Linked DNA regions of Homo sapiens. The protein of the gene in region 2 purifies or fractionates together with the protein of the main gene of each other region. This does not show direct contact. Each region holds a gene or a part of one and is shown on either strand. Other genes may lie near its edges.

Region 1 (7,415 bases), on a different chromosome or scaffold from region 2:
GTCACCAAAGGCCACAGGATCCGTGGTCCAATGTCAGCAAACAAGTCTCTGTGTTACCTGCACTGTGGATGGACTCGTCCCCTTGGAATGGACACTCACTCAGGGCTCCTACCCGGGCCATGGACCCACCCAGAATAATTTTCATAGATTCCACAAAGCCCTGGGGGGATAGCAGCAGAGTAAGGTGGGAAGGTCTACCAACCCCTTCCCCAGCTGGTGCAAACTCTATTTCCACAGAACTCAGAGGCTCCTCCCGGCTCACCTGCATCCTCAAATACGCCTTCTGTCCAGTCCTAATCTCCAGCCCATCGACCTCCGCTGGAGGAATGGGGGCCAGTGCTGGAAGGCCTGCATGTTGGTCACCCAGTTTGCAGTCCACGTAGAGATGTAGGGCAGGGCTGGGTCTGGAGGGACCTCGGAGTCGCAGGAGAACTGTGTGTGTGCGCCCATCAGCCAGGCCCGCTTGCTGTAGGTTCACGGCGTGGACTTTGCCATCCTCCCGCTGGTATCGCACCAGTACTGCCCAGGAGGGGAGATCAGTATGGGCGCTATCCCCCACCCCCTGCCTCCCAGCTGAGCCTTGGATCAACTCTGCTAGATACCACATCTCTAGGGCCCCTATCCCTAATTCTACTATGTGGCTCTCAACACCTTGTATTTAATAGGTACACAATAAATGTTTTTGAAATTGCTTTAGAGGCCAGGCACGGTGGCTCACACCTGTAATCCCAGCACTTTAGAAGGCCAAGGTGGGCAGATCACTTGAGGTCAGAAGTTCGAGAACAGCCTGGTCAACATGGCGAAACCCTGTTTCTACTAAAAATACAAAAGTTAGCCAGGCATGGTGGTGGGCACCTGTAGTCCCAGCTACTCAGGAGGCTGAGATAGGAGAATTGCTTGAACCCAGGAGGCAGAGGTTGCAGTGAGCTGAGATTGTACCACTGCACTCCAGCCTAGGTGACAAAGCAAGACTCCATTTAAAAAAATAATTGGTTTAGAGACAAATACTTTCTTAGTCTTCATTGGTATCAGATGACTGTATCCTCTCCTAGGGTGACAGCTGGTTTTGTGGCCACTGACCTGTTCCAGGGATCTGAAAGACCTTTCTGTATCACCGCTGAGGCACAGAGACATGCCTCACCCTCCTTCCAGGCATCCCCAAGTACAACCTCCCATCCCTATAAATATCAGGACTCAAGCCTCACCCTATTGTTTGGTACATGGGCTCCTAAAGCACCTTATAAGCACCCCATACCAGGTGCCCCTGATGTCTGGGCACAGCCTGATGGGACCTTGGTCCCTAGTGGAGGCCAAGGAGAATGAGGAAGCACTTGGGAAGTAGGGATGAGGGAGAGTGCTTAAGGAGGTCACCATTGCAAGAAAGGAGATGCCCACCAGTCACCTTTGTTGATCTTGCCTACAACAGAGGCCTCCAGCCATCGAGTGTTGTCTTGGCGAGAATAGAGGCCAAAGAGGACACCACCCTGCTTGGGGGGCAGGCGGAAGGTGGATAAGAGGTAGATGTCCCCAGCAGTGAGCAAGGCTGTCCGGATCTTCTCTGCCACAGCTACCATCTGCCGAGACTCGCCCACAGTCAGCAGGTCAATTACTGGTCAGGCAGGGGTTATCAAGGTTAGAGAATGGGATCAAATGCTAAGGTATGCCCTCCCCCGAGCCCACATCACCCCCTACCCCCACCACCAGGCAGCGTTAGTCACCTCAAAATTCAACCCTTGGCTGGGCATGGTGGCTCGCACCTGTAATCCCAACACCTTGGGAGGTTGAGGCAGGTGGATCGCCTAAGGTCAGGAGTTCGAGACCAGCCTGGCCAACACGGTGAAACCCCGTGTCTACTAAAAATACAAAAACAACAACAAAAAAGAAAAAAAAACCACCTAGCCGGGCGTGGTGGCGGGCACCTGTAATCCCAGCTACTCAGGAGGCTGAGGCAGGAGACTCGCTTGAACCTGAGAGGTGGAGGTTGCAGTGAGCCGAGATCGCGCCATTGCACTCCAGCCTGGGCAACAAGAGTGAAACTCCATCTCAAAAAGACAAAACGAAAACAAAAAAAAACCTCAACCCTTGTTGCTCTCAGAGGACAGAGGCACTGTGCCTTCCTTTCCCCATTATTGCCTATTACTACCTTCCAGGAACCTGCAGGTTTGAGACTCACTTGGAAACACAGAAACAGCACCCCACAAATTTGAGATGCCCCCACCAGGTGGCGCAAAGGAGATGCTGTGCTGATCCCCCACAGGAGTGGCACCTGGTGTCCACAACGTAGAAATGGAAGGCAGCTTCTCTTTCCACTCCTGGGTTTGGCTCGTTCCACACCCTAGTTCCCCTCCTCCCATCCTAGGGGCGCAGCACACTCGCTCTGGATAAGAACAGCTGCCCACTGAGGACTCTAACCCTCCCACCATCTGGGCTATCTCCCACGGGAATGTAGGACCCAGCTCCTCTGCCTCCTGTGTCCTGGCCAATCTGTGGTTTTCCCTCCAGCCAGTAAAGAATCTATGCCTGTGTCATCTGCTCCAGCTACCTCTCCCACATCCATCGGCCCATCCCACCACCAGACCTCCGGGAGAGCCCAGGCTTCTTGGTCCCCACCCCCGCCCTGTCCTTGGGCAGCCAGGAGCCCAGGGGGACGAAGCCCAGGGACCTACAGTACGCCCACCTTCAGGCTGCTCTCCCAGACCCTAGGGTGCCTACAGATGCTCAGGAACCACCCCAGCCAGGCAGCCTGAGCATCCAGTTCCTGAGTCCTCTGCCCTGGCCTCATGCCTGACCCTGTCCTGTTCCAGCTCCCCCACTACTCTCCGGTGCCCACTCCTCTCCACCAGGCCATAATTTCACCAACTCTAGGCAGTCTTAAGTTTTCCTCTGGCTCAATTTCTGGACTCTTCCCCTCTCCCCTTGCCCACATGTTCTCTGCTACTTGGGCTGAGGGCAAATGGGGAAGAAGCAGAGAGCGGTCTAAGAGGATGGAGACAGGCTTACCCTGCAGATCCTGACTGGCAGATGTGAAAAAGCAAAGGAGGAGAAGAGCCAGGGCCCCCCGAAGTTCCTGCGTCTCCATGCCTCTCAGCCGGCTCACTACCCCTGGCAGGCAGGCAGCTGGGAGGGGAAAAGGCTAGGCGGAGAGAGCAGGAGCCGGGGGGCGGAGGGACAGAATTGGAGGGGGGGCCAGCAGGCGGGTGAGGGGGGGCTGAAACAAAGAGCTGCCAATCACCCTGGAGGCATCATCAGCTCTGGGAACCAGGGGCACTGGGAAAGAATCCTGGAGGCCTCCCTGCTTTCTACCTCTCCCTAATGATCCTCCCCCAGGTGCCTCCCTCTCCGCAGTCATCATTGTTGGGGGTCTCGGCACACAGCGCTACCGAATGCCACTGTTTTCTGGAAGCCACGATTGTGGAAGGCAAGAACCCCTGGCAGGGGCAGTGCTAGACAGTGGGCATTATTCCACAGCTGGCAGGAAAGGATGCCAAGGGAGTGGCCGCAACTAGCTTGCTATAGTGCCCAGGGATGCCCACATGGCATGAATTTTGCTGTTCTGGCGGAGCAAGTGCTCTTTATTAGGGTGGGGGGTCCCCTGACAAGTGCCTGTTTCTCCATTTTCCCTCATTCGTAGGAAAGCTTGGGAGTCTGGAAGCGTCTGACGGGAACTGAAGGGAGAATCTAAAGCAGTGGTCAGTGAGGTCAGAGTGAAGAAACCAAAAAAGAGGAAAGGGACACCAGGGACAGGCGCAGAAGACCAGGGGTACAGGCGAGGAGCCAAGGACCAGACTGTGGAACACTGTGGGTACTAGCGGACGGGCCGTGACCCGGATGAAGCAGAGGGGCGCCTGAGTTCCCGTCACCTAAGCGACAGCCTGCGAGCCTCTCTTCCCCTCCCCCACCCAAGCCCCAGCCCGGCCTCCGCTCCGGCCGCCGCCACCGCCCCTGTTTTGTTTCCATGGCGACAGGCGGCGCAGGGCCCGCTCCAAACATAACGCGCTGTGGAAAACATGCTGCTCGGGGGACCCCCCCGCAGTCCCCGCTCGGGGACGAGCCCCAAGGGGCCCTGGAGCAGTACAGGCCACGTGCAGTTTGGCAAGAGCCCCCAGACCTGGCCCAGGCGCACAAGACCCCGCTCTCCAGAGCCTGCCGCGCCTTCAGGGGTTCGGGGCTCCACTTGGACGAGGCGCCGTGACTCTCCGAGGCGCGCCGGGCCGACAGCGCTGTCCCGCTACGTGGGCCACCTCTGGATGGGCCGGCGGCCGCCCTCCCCCGAGGCCCGCGGCCCAGTCCCCCGCAGTTCAGCTGCCAGTCGGGCCAGAAGAAGCCTCGCCTCCCCGGGGATCTCCCCAGGCCCCCTGACCGCAACGATCGGAGGGGCGGTGGCGGGGGGCGGGCCCAGGCAGGGGAGGGCAGAAGCACACAAGGAAGTGTTTCCGGGACAGAGGGTGGGCAAGATGGCGGCGCCCATGGAGCTGTTCTGCTGGTCAGGGGGCTGGGGGCTGCCGTCAGTGGACCTGGACAGCCTGGCCGTGCTGGTGAGGGGTGGCGCCGGCGCCCTCTGCTGTGCCCTGATGACTGGGGAGGGGGCCGAACTAGCCAAGCATCCAAACCTTGCCAGGGCTACTCAGCACGGGCGCAGTGGGGGAAACTGAGGCAGTCAAAGAGCGTACGTGGCCGATATGGCCTCAGTGCCCTATGCTGTAGTTTTCTAGGCTTAATGCAGCAATGAAAAGACGCCTGGTTGGGAGTTCAGGTGATGGGTTCTAGTCCTTGCTCATCCATTCACTGGCTGTGTGACCTTGCGGAGATCCTTTCTCTTTGGGCATTTTTTTTCTCCATTCGGAGGTTTACTAGGCTGGACTGTCTCAGGGACCTACTCTAGCTTGGAATTCCTGCCTTCTCCTCAGCCCCCTTCTCCTCTTCCTCCTCACTTAACAGCATTTACTGAGGCTATTGTTTGTTAGACCAAACGACTCACAGCCAGGCTTTGTATAAAGAGCTTAGCAATCAGACTTCCTTTGCTTCATTTATTCATTGACTCCTTGCTTTAAAGAGGATCTATTAGATTTCTTCCAAATATTAAACATTGCCAGGCAAAGATGAATAAAATTTGGTTCCTCCCTTCGAGTTTACAGAAAGGCAGATAGGTAAGCAAATAAATATAATAAAATATTCACATATAAGTTAAAGTAGGAACAGACCACAGATACTGCCAAAGAGAAGGGCATTATCAGTGCTTCCAAGAAGAGGGATACTGGTTAGGAAAAGCTTCTGAGGATAGATGTTCACCAGGTAGATGGCAAGAGAGGAGATAGAGGAAAGGATTTTCCTGGCTGTCCTGTAATCACAGACATGTCCGGAATCTCTCTGAGCCCTGTGTTGTCCATTTGTAAAATAGAAATGGTAGTGACTCCCCCTTTTTTTTCGAGACTAAGATACTAAGTATAGGGAATGGCACATAAGGTATTCAATAAATGTTATTTCTCTTCTTGATACCACTGTGGGGGACATGGCTCTGCCTCTCTGACTTCTGCTTCCTTCCCTGCAGACCTATGCCAGATTTACTGGTGCTCCACTGAAGGTACACAAGATCAGCAACCCCTGGCAGAGCCCTTCAGGTACCCAGTATCCCTTGGGGGTAAGGAAGGGTGTGTACAAGGGGAGAAGCAAGAAATAGGCAGGAATGTGTTGCAACTATGTATGACTAGGCAGCTAAGGGTCTGGTTGGTATACTTCCCTCTCAATATCAGGAACTCTGCCTGCCCTTCGGACCAGTCATGGAGAGGTCATCTCAGTTCCACACAAGATCATCACCCACCTTCGAAAAGAGGTAGGTGACTTGGATAGAGGGGGCTGCCAGTGAGAGAAGTTCAGTCAATTCTATACAATACACATTTATTGAGCACCAGATATATGCCATGCTAGATGCAGGTGACCCAGAGCATCAAGGAGCAACAGTCTTGTGGCAGAGACACACACAATGTCACTGTGATGTATTAAAGCAGTCGGCAAGAGATGAAACTTAGGGCACTGTGAGGCAGGGAGGGAGAGGAGCACAGGCTGAAGGAGAGTGGAAGACAGCAGTTGGCCTCTGATGGTGGGACTGGAGAGAGATTTCTAAGGGCCACTTCCTGTTTTCAGGGACTAGGTTGGGCTAGATATGGGGCTCAGGATGGACAAGGCTTAGAGCCAGGTTGGAGAAGATGAAAGAGCATTACTAGAGGAGTGGGGAGGCCTAGGCTATGCTCTTTACTCTGCCATTGACTATGTGATCTCGGGCAGGCCATGTAACCTCTCAGGGCTGTGCACTCCCTTATTTGTAAAACTAGAGGGCTGGGCCAGCATGTTTTCCAAGGGTTCTTCTAGCATTGACGGTCAGGTTCCAAGAGGGAACAGTGTCAGAAGTAGGACACTCTTCCTCATTTCTAACTTCCCAAAGGTTGAGGACCTGGGGAATTAATTGAGAGGCCTGGAAAGAGAGGATCCAGATAAAAGCCAAAGTTCCTGGCAGAGCCGAGGCCACTGCCCTGATTGCTTAGGTGTGAACAGAGCTTTTCCAGTTTCCAAAGTATTCTAAATTATTTCCTAACACAGGGGCATTCAGAGAAAGAGATTCTTACCCCCATTCCACAGGGGAGAAACTGAGGCTTAGGGAGATTTAAGGATCATGCTGAAGAGGTTATCTGGGGACAAAGCTTACTCAGGATGTGGAGGGGGATGCTGAGGAACAGGGACTGGAGCCTGGGAAGGTAGGGCAGGCTGAGACCTGGGGGTATGGGTGGAATGTGTATGTGGTAATGGTGTCTGAGCGATGGAATGAAGTGAAAGAAATAGCCAAGAGCTGGGCACTGAGGGAACAAGCTGGGGGGCCCTGGGCGTGGGTTCCCTGGATCCAGGGAGTGTGAGGATGGCTTTCTCTGGTTCCTGAGGCATGGACCGAGTCCTAGCCTGCATCTGAGCTCCGTTGTGCTAGCTTTGTGGTGTCTGGGTCGGGGAAGTTACTGTTAGAAAGTTGCCGTCAGCGGGCGTTGTTCCAGCTTTCCATGGAAATTCTGGGAGCTGCTCCTAGTTTGCGGCGGAGCCTTCCTTCCTTCCCTGCATTGGGCGCTGGACCTTCACGGCCAGGAGGCTCCAAGGCCCAGGCTTTTCGCCAACAGCAACAGGCTACTGGCTGGGCCCAGGCAAGGGGGCCTTGGCAGGAAAAGTTCCTTGCTGTACCTCCACTGCACTCAGAGGCCAGTGAGGGGGGTACCAGACAGGACTCCTTCCTCCCTGGTGAAGTGCCCTTGCAGCTCCCTAGTGTCCACGCCATGGATATTTCCTCCACAGAAGTACAATGCTGATTATGATCTGTCAGCTCGGCAAGGGGCAGACACCCTGGCCTTCATGTCTCTCCTGGAGGAGAAGTTGCTCCC
Region 2 (8,036 bases):
GAAGAATCCCTTTGACAAATCATCATCATCATCACCACCACCACCCCCACCTTCATCATCATTTTAATTTGAATATCTCAGATTAATCTGATTTGAAGTTAATTTAAGAGTGAAGGCCCTTATCAAATCAAATCATAACAACAAGCATTACTGAACATCTACTATGCTTGAGGTATCTAATCTGTAAGTTGTGACAATTTATTTTTAAGACACAATTTGCTGTGGTGATTTGATATGTCAAGAAGCAGCTTTTGTAAAGCTGCCCCAGAAGGATGGATCCCAGTTGCACAAGATGTCAAAGGCTGTGTGAACATGGAGATAACTGGCTCTATGTGGATGTCTCTCATTTCCACATTGTTCAGATCCTCTGCCAGAGCAACATATTGAGAGTCTTGACTTTTCATTGCAAAATATTCGTGGTAACTTCATGCAGAAATAAGATGTGTTTATTTTTCATTGTTGTCCTCAATAAGGGGTGGTTGCTTAGGGTAGACAAAATTAGTAATCAACAGAGTTACCGGCTTCTATCACTGTTGTTCTCACAGATCTGCTTTGTGCCACATGCTAAGTGGAGACGTGATTTACGTGGCATATTATCCACGGCATCAACTCCCTGCTATGCACGTCAAAAGCGTCTATGGCAAGCCATTGGACTGTACCTCTTACTTCTTTCCCTTACTCCATCTCTCTCATACATACATCTCCCTGCATTCTTGTTTCTGCTTAAGAGACGAGGTACAGTGATATATGGAAATGTCTGTGTGTGCATAATGGCGGAGCTGTTATCCTGAAGCTACATGGTGCCAAGCCTTGGCTCATGCACAAATATCACTTTTAGGGCTTCCACTCTGTTCAAAATTATAACCCATCTCCCTATGGACAACACTCTATGGCATACATGTAATCTCATGAATCATTAAATAATATAATTATTAAATTCTATACTTATCTATTTTGTCATCTAGTAATCAGGGGTTATTTTCAGTCTCCCAACATGGAGACAATGTTTTAACTATTTTGCCATTCTAACAAATGTAAATATCCTATGTACAGATTAATTTACTTGGCTAAGTTTTTGTTTTTCTTGAAAATTTAGGATATCAGATAATGTAATTTATTGACAAGAATGAATCCACCAGCAGTATGGGTTATAAGCTTGGGTATATGAAAAAATCTGCTAACTCCTTTCCCTTCCTCCTTCCTGCTTTTGTCAATCTTCTACTGCAATTAGTAATATTATCCTTATTTTGAACAACTAAAAATCAGTTATCCTTTGATAATCTTAGAAATAGTTTTTTCTTCAACATTAGCATTTGCAAGGCCATTGTGTTTCAAAACCAAGAAGGCAACTGGCATTCATTGGCTTGCCTTGGTTCCTTCTGCCTTGCATTTTACTTTCTTAGATTGCTGAGTTTCTTTTATCATCAGGTTGTGTGTGTGTGTGTGTGTGTGTGTGTGTGTGTGTGTGTGAGTGTATGTAAGCAAGGGCTATAGGAACTTCTTTTCATCTTTTGGGTTATTTCTGTTAGATGCAACATATATAATTCTAGGCCTAACTCATTTTTCAAACTAGGATCTGTAAATGCTTCAGCAGCAGCAATTCGGTGACTACATTCAGTCTCTCTGAGAATGTTATTTAGGGCAAAGTATGTTCCTTGGGGGTAGTGATAGCATTTTGACAGAGCTGAGCCATGCATTTTGGGAATTAGTAGGAAGGAGGTGAAGTATGGCCAAAGTGTGGAGGGCCTTGATTGCTAAACATGGGGGAAAAGGGGGACAGGTGGGAGCTCCTGGGTGCTTTTTTAGAAGCAGTGGCACTTGACAGATGGAAGCAAAGTCCCGGATATGTTATGGGGAAGAAGCTCTGAAGATAGGGAGATCAATTAAGAAATTAAGAAATTTCTGAAAATTTAGGGGTGGAATGACCCCATCCCACCTTCCATGCCACAGGCCATCCAGAGCCACCAAGCATCAGCTACACAGGTTAATGACATCCGAAACAGCCCAGCTGTTTGATACCTGTTATGTTACTTTTCAGTTGTGTTTTATATTACATTGCTCTATGAAACCGTTTCAGTACAATCTTTTTCAAAGTGAGAGAAAGGGAATAAAACGTTAATAGGAAGAATACTTTATAGTGCCTTCTTCTTCTTCTTGTAACATTATTACAGTCTTATCAGTAATTCTAGCTTGCCTCAGATATTAATACAATCTTTAAATAGTCTACTTCCACTTATGCTGACTCTGATATGACTCAAAGCAATGTTGTCTGTCTGGAGACACCTTAGAACTGAGCATAAAAGCAACTAAGAGTGGATGATGAGAAATTTCATAGTGGGTACAATGTATATTATTTTTGTGATGGATACCCTAAAAGCCTTGACTTCACCACTATGCAATATATACATGTAACAAAACTACACTTGCACCCCATAAATTTATACAAATTAAAAAAGAAAAGCAATTAATATAATTGTTAAACACAAAAATAGGTGTGATTCAAAACTCATCTTTCTTTGAAGAGCATATTAGATACTTTCAACTATTTATTCTTCTTTCAACCTAATCCTTCTAATAGGGAAATAAAGAAGGCTCACACATCCCTTTAACTGAATATTCTCCAATTGTATGCATTATTTTCATAGCTACATAAATGTAATGGTAAAGTGAGATGGACAGCTGCTACCTTGCCCTGCAATACAGAGGTAGTGAACTTGATATGGTTAGAGGAATCTATAGGTTTAATATGTGACAGACTCCCACAGAATTTTACTATGGGAGGCAGCTATGGGGGAAAGGGATGGGGGCCTGTGACTCACATTGCTTGGAAGGATCTCTTGAGTATCCTGCTTAGAAGTCAGAAGAATAGCAACATGTATGATCTCATGACCTAGAGAAGAGGATGACAGAAAGATGTGGCGATTGCTCCTAAATACTGTGAGCCTTTTTAGCACACTCCAGTGCTTTTTTCTCTTTTCCTCTGGAAAAAGATTGAAATAACTAAAGAGTATTTGTTTTTTTAGCCTAAAGGTTTACTTTCTAAAATTAATGATAGTTAAATGACTCATTACGAGTTTTGGAAAAACAGGAATTACACAAATGTACTCCTACCTATGATGTAAAAGTACCAGTCAAACTGTCCACATTATTTAGAACTACAGTAAGGTATACAAAGTATTGGATTCCCAGGAGGGGAGAACAATATGGTCAAATAAGAATATGTTAATTTTTATTCATTGCTAGGTGAATGTAAAGCAAAGTTTTATTTGCATTTTTACCAAATCTGGAGACATTCCAGATGGTCTGACTTAAAACGTTGCCATGGAATAGAAATGATGTTTAGTCTGGTGATTGGCAGTAGCACCGCAAAGAGATAAGCAGGTATCCTTCCCAGCAGTTGTGGATATTGATTGGCTAAGAAGCTGCTTTGCACATGGCAAGTCTACATAGTGTGCTTCAGGGTGAACAGCAGCAGGGAGTTATAAATGCAGAGATGGATAATTATTTTCTTGAGCCATGATGGGTTGGTTCACTAGTTCATAAGTTTGAATAATCAATGTTTGATACTCCACACTCTGATGGCTGAAGAGTCAAAATTTGAATTTTCCAATTTATCATTAAGGAGAAATGTCAGGAGAAAGTCAAGTGGTTGTGTGCACATAGTATATCATAAAGAGAAAACTTTTTAAAAGAAAAGATTAAAGTTATGTAGCATATGCTAAACATTTTAAATCAATTACACATTTTCAATTTTGCATCATAGTTTAGTTCTAAATTCCTATTTTAAGCTCTAATAGAAAACACATGTATTTATGCTATCCTGTGGAAAGAGATGGTAATTTTTTGATTGTTTGTTCTCTAATCTCTTCAATTTTGGAAACAGTGTACTGGTGTAATTTTGGGAAGTTTTTATTTGCAATGTCAAAATTGTAACCATTGTTTTCATCTATATTATCAGACCACTGATTTTTCTGCTAGGGTAATATAATTTAACCACAGCTTAAGTGTACTTATTGGAAACTGAGAGATTACTGTTTTACTTAAAATGTGTTGTATCTTCAATTGACAAAACTTGCCATTTAAAGTAATATTTCAGAATATTACCTCTTAGAATAGTTGCTTTCTATGCATAATACATAGAAGGAAAAAACAAGGCTGAGGAAAATACTCTTCTTGGGTTTAGAATAAACACATTTCATAAAATCTGGCATAGATCAGGCCATTTCATTTGAATTTTAGTATATCTGAATTCTTGCAGCAATTTTTCCCTCCCAACAACTAGACCAAATATGGAATATGTAATTCCTTCGGCTTTAGTTTGTTTTGGGTCTAAGTAGTCTCTGATATAGTTTGGATGTTTGTCCCCTCCAAATCTCATGTTGAAATGTAATCCCCAATGTTGGAGGTAGGAACTGGTGGGAGGTGTCTGGCTCATGGGGGCAGATCTCCCATGAATGGCTTGGTGCTGTCCTTGCATTAGTGAGTGATTCTCGAGACATCTGGTGGTTTGCAAGTGTGGTGCCTTGCCCCCTTCTCTCTTGCTCCTGCTCTTGCCATGTTACGTGCCTGCACCCCTTCTCCCTCTGCCATATTTGGAAGCTTCCTGAGGCCCTCACCAGAAGCAGATGCTGGAGCCATGCATGTACAGCCTACAGAGCTGTGAGCCAATCAAATCTCTTTTCTTTATAAATTACCCAGCCTTTTTTTTTTTTTTTTAATAGCAATGTAGAAATGGCCTAATACAGTCTGTAAGCAAGGTTAGTTATCTTCCTCTCACACTGAGGCACTGACTTTGTTGTGTTTCTTTTTGGTTCCTTACTGCCTAGCTCAGGGGTGGGCACACAGTGGGTGCTCAATAAATGCAGACTGAAGAAATGAAGGAGACCACAGTAAAGCAGGCAAATTTTAAGTGGTATTAGTTAGTAATGCTGCTCAGCAAGGTCAACAGTGGCCTGCTATCATGTGGACCCCATTATCTCTAAGTCACCCATATCACTGAGAAAAGCCAGGATGCCCTTTGGCTTTAATCATTAATCTAGACAGTCAAAATAAAATAAATACAATTCATTTCAAGCTGGACTGTAGATATCTGGCTTCTGAACAGCATCATATTCAACGGTAACTAAACTCAAGGATATGTTTGTTTCAAGTATTTTCTGGGCCTAGTAGCTCTCACTCTGGAAATTGCATTTCATAAAAATCCAGGGATCTTGCCAAGACAGCCTATCCAACCAGCAAGCCCAGGGGTGGCATGAGAATCCAAGTCATGAAACACCATGATTTTGAACCATCATCCCTGAAATACTATTTTGTTACAATTAAGGTAGAAACTAAGTGTAACATAAGACAGATAATAAAATTTGTAAATCTTAAAACTAGTAGTTAGAAGACAGCAGAAATAGCTCTCAGTAAAAACACAGATAAAATTCCAAAGGTCAGAAAAGTCTGCAGCAACTCTCCACGTGGAATCAGAGCATGGGTTTAAATTTGCAAATACATTTGTGGTTACTTCCTACCTTAAATACATTGATAGGGAGATCAATGACCACATAGATAAGGTCTCCAAGGGCAAGACTGGCTATCAGCGCGTTGGGGCCATTCCTCATACATTTGTTCTGGTAAATGATCCTGAGCAGAGTTGCATTCCCCACCATTCCCACGATGAAAATAGTACAAGATATCACAGTGTTAATGTATTTGAAAGCTGAAGTAATTTTAGTCTGCTGTGGGCAATAGTTGTGCATTGAGCCATTGCTGGGTAGGACCAAATTAGTGGGTTGATGAGTGGTAACCAGGAAGCTGAGCTCTGTGCCACGAAAAGTGGTGAAATCATCCACATGATTGCTTAGATTTGTGCTGTATCTCTCAGGATTATCACTGATTACACATCCAACCAGTGCCAGCCAAAAGGATGCCCTGAGGCAAAGGGTTTCCATCTTGAGGCAAATTTGAGGAAATATCTCTTATTGCACTTGTGCTGCTTTTACACCTTCACTTTTTTTTCACCTGAAACAAAAGGAAAAATAATTTTTGTTCCAAAACCCAGTTGCCAAAAAGATCATAGTCAATGATTATTTATTGATTCAATTAAAATGCAGGATATATTTGGTGATTAGATAAGATATATGTATATCAGGTTACCCTATGACAGAGCAAAACCAGAAAAAAACTGAAGCTCTATTAGGGCAAGCTCTATCTCCTCTATGTCAGTCTCCATCTCCATCTCCATCATCTCCATCATCTCTGTCATCTCCGTCTCTGTCTCTGTCTCCATTTCCGTCTCTATAGCTATCTATCTCTGTCTCTATTTCCATCTCTAGCTCTATCTCCATCTCCCTATCTCTCTAGCTTTGTCTCTCTCACTCATCTCTATACATAGCTATACTTATATCTACATCATAATATGGATGAGGCTATGTCAGTTTTTCCTTTAAGTAGTAGTTACTTCTTTCTCTACATTCAGGCTGATAAGAACCTGAATTACAAAAATCTTCAAGAGTTGAGATACAAACATATTTTTTAATGAAAGAGAAAAGGCATTATATGCTGAGTAAAGGGTACAGGGTATTGAGGCATAAAATAAAATTATCGAATGTAAAAATTGAATCTTCTAAAATGTGTGCTGTCTTGCATATGATAAATAATGAACATAGGGATGAAGTGCAGCACAGGTAGCCATCTAAAGTGTTATGAAATGTTAATGAGAACTCTGGTTAACACCATTAACACATCTAACAATTTTAGTTTCAATTAAGAATGAAATAATTGATAAAAACATTTGTTTTGAAAACCTTGATGATTAATGTGTAAAATCTAAATTTTTTACAGGAGTTTTTTTGCTTTTTCATTTCTCAGAAATTATCATCACAATACGGTATTTGCCGATGAATGAAATGGGAGTAATGAACTTTTCCAGGCTAGTCATAGTATTTTGGTTTCCAAGGGACACCTGTCCCCATGCTATCTTTTAACCATCCTATATAGCTACATTTATTTTATGCCAGTCACTGTACTCAGTACTATATGTGCATGATGCCCTGTAATCCATACAATGGTCCTGTGGGGTAGATCCACGGTTCAATTTTGAAGATAGGGAAACAGAGGCCCAGGAGGGTGAAGCAGCTTGTCAAGGCCACAGGTGATGGGTGGCAACACTGCGATTCTAAGGCAGGTCAGTCCAACTCTGAGCCGGAGCTGTTAACCACTAAACCATCCTGTCTCTCATTCTTGTGCTTTATTTGTATGTAAAATATTTTAAAGAAGTCTCCAGAGTTTAGATGAAGCAATAGACTCAGGAGGGTGGTTAGACATTTTCAAAGACCATCTGGTGTGGTTTATTTATTTATTTATTTATTTTTAAGTCACTTGCAGAGAGCAAGTGGTCCTTCCTGTCCAGGAAGTCTAGGAGACCTTAATAAGGAATAATCAAAGATAATTAAAAATAGCTCATCCTATTTCAATATTTTATATATTTCCTTTTCTGTAGGCTTTTATGAATCTTCAAATGAAGACATAATCTGATTTATGCGGTGGTGTGTGTACGTGTCTGTGATGTATATACCCAGGTCATAATTTAATCTTAAAAAAATTGAGTCCTGGTTGGGTGTGGTGGCTCATGTCTATAATCTCAGCACTTTGGGAGGCCAAAGCAGGAGGATCACTTGAGCCCAGGAGTTTGAAACTAGCCTGGGCAACTTAGTGAGACCCTGTCTTTACAAAACATAAAAAAGATTAGACAGGCATGGTGGCGTGTGCCTGTAGTCTCAGCTACTTGGGAGGCTGAGATGGGAGAATCACTTGAGTCCAGGAGGTTAAGGCTGCAGGGAGCTATGATCGAGTCACTGCACTCCATCCTGAGCAGCAGAGTGAGACCCTGTCTCAAAAAAAAAAAAATTAAATAAATAAAAAGTAAAAAATAAAATTGAATCCTTTTTCTGAGTGTATTCAAGGTTGATGTTAACCACTTTTAGGAATTTTGACAATTATCTTGGGAAATCAGTAAAGCTTAGGTTTGGCCAATACGTGGATAAAATAAG

Evidence for each region. Proteins that work in one complex are often made in the same cells at the same time.
Region 1: the proteins of EDNRA (region 2) and MTX1 purify together in Homo sapiens (affinity purification with mass spectrometry; 3 studies listed by BioGRID and IntAct, with this or other methods). This does not show direct contact.

The regions. Positions count from the first base shown.
Region 1 is NC_000001.11:155,204,798-155,212,212, forward strand, and holds the start of MTX1 (metaxin-1), read left to right. Parts: upstream 1-3,897; 5' UTR 3,898-4,007; coding exon 4,008-4,535; intron 4,536-5,548; coding exon 5,549-5,618; intron 5,619-5,750; coding exon 5,751-5,830; intron 5,831-7,329; coding exon 7,330-7,415. Other genes in the region: THBS3 (thrombospondin-3), read right to left, coding at 58-160, 263-519, 1,403-1,609, 2,174-2,423. UniProt on the Homo sapiens protein: Involved in transport of proteins into the mitochondrion. Essential for embryonic development.
Region 2 is NC_000004.12:147,483,582-147,491,617, reverse strand, and holds part of EDNRA (endothelin-1 receptor isoform a precursor), read right to left. Parts: intron 6,007-8,036; 5' UTR 5,937-6,006; coding exon 5,517-5,936; intron 1-5,516. UniProt on the Homo sapiens protein: Receptor for endothelin-1. Mediates its action by association with G proteins that activate a phosphatidylinositol-calcium second messenger system. The rank order of binding affinities for ET-A is: ET1 > ET2 >> ET3.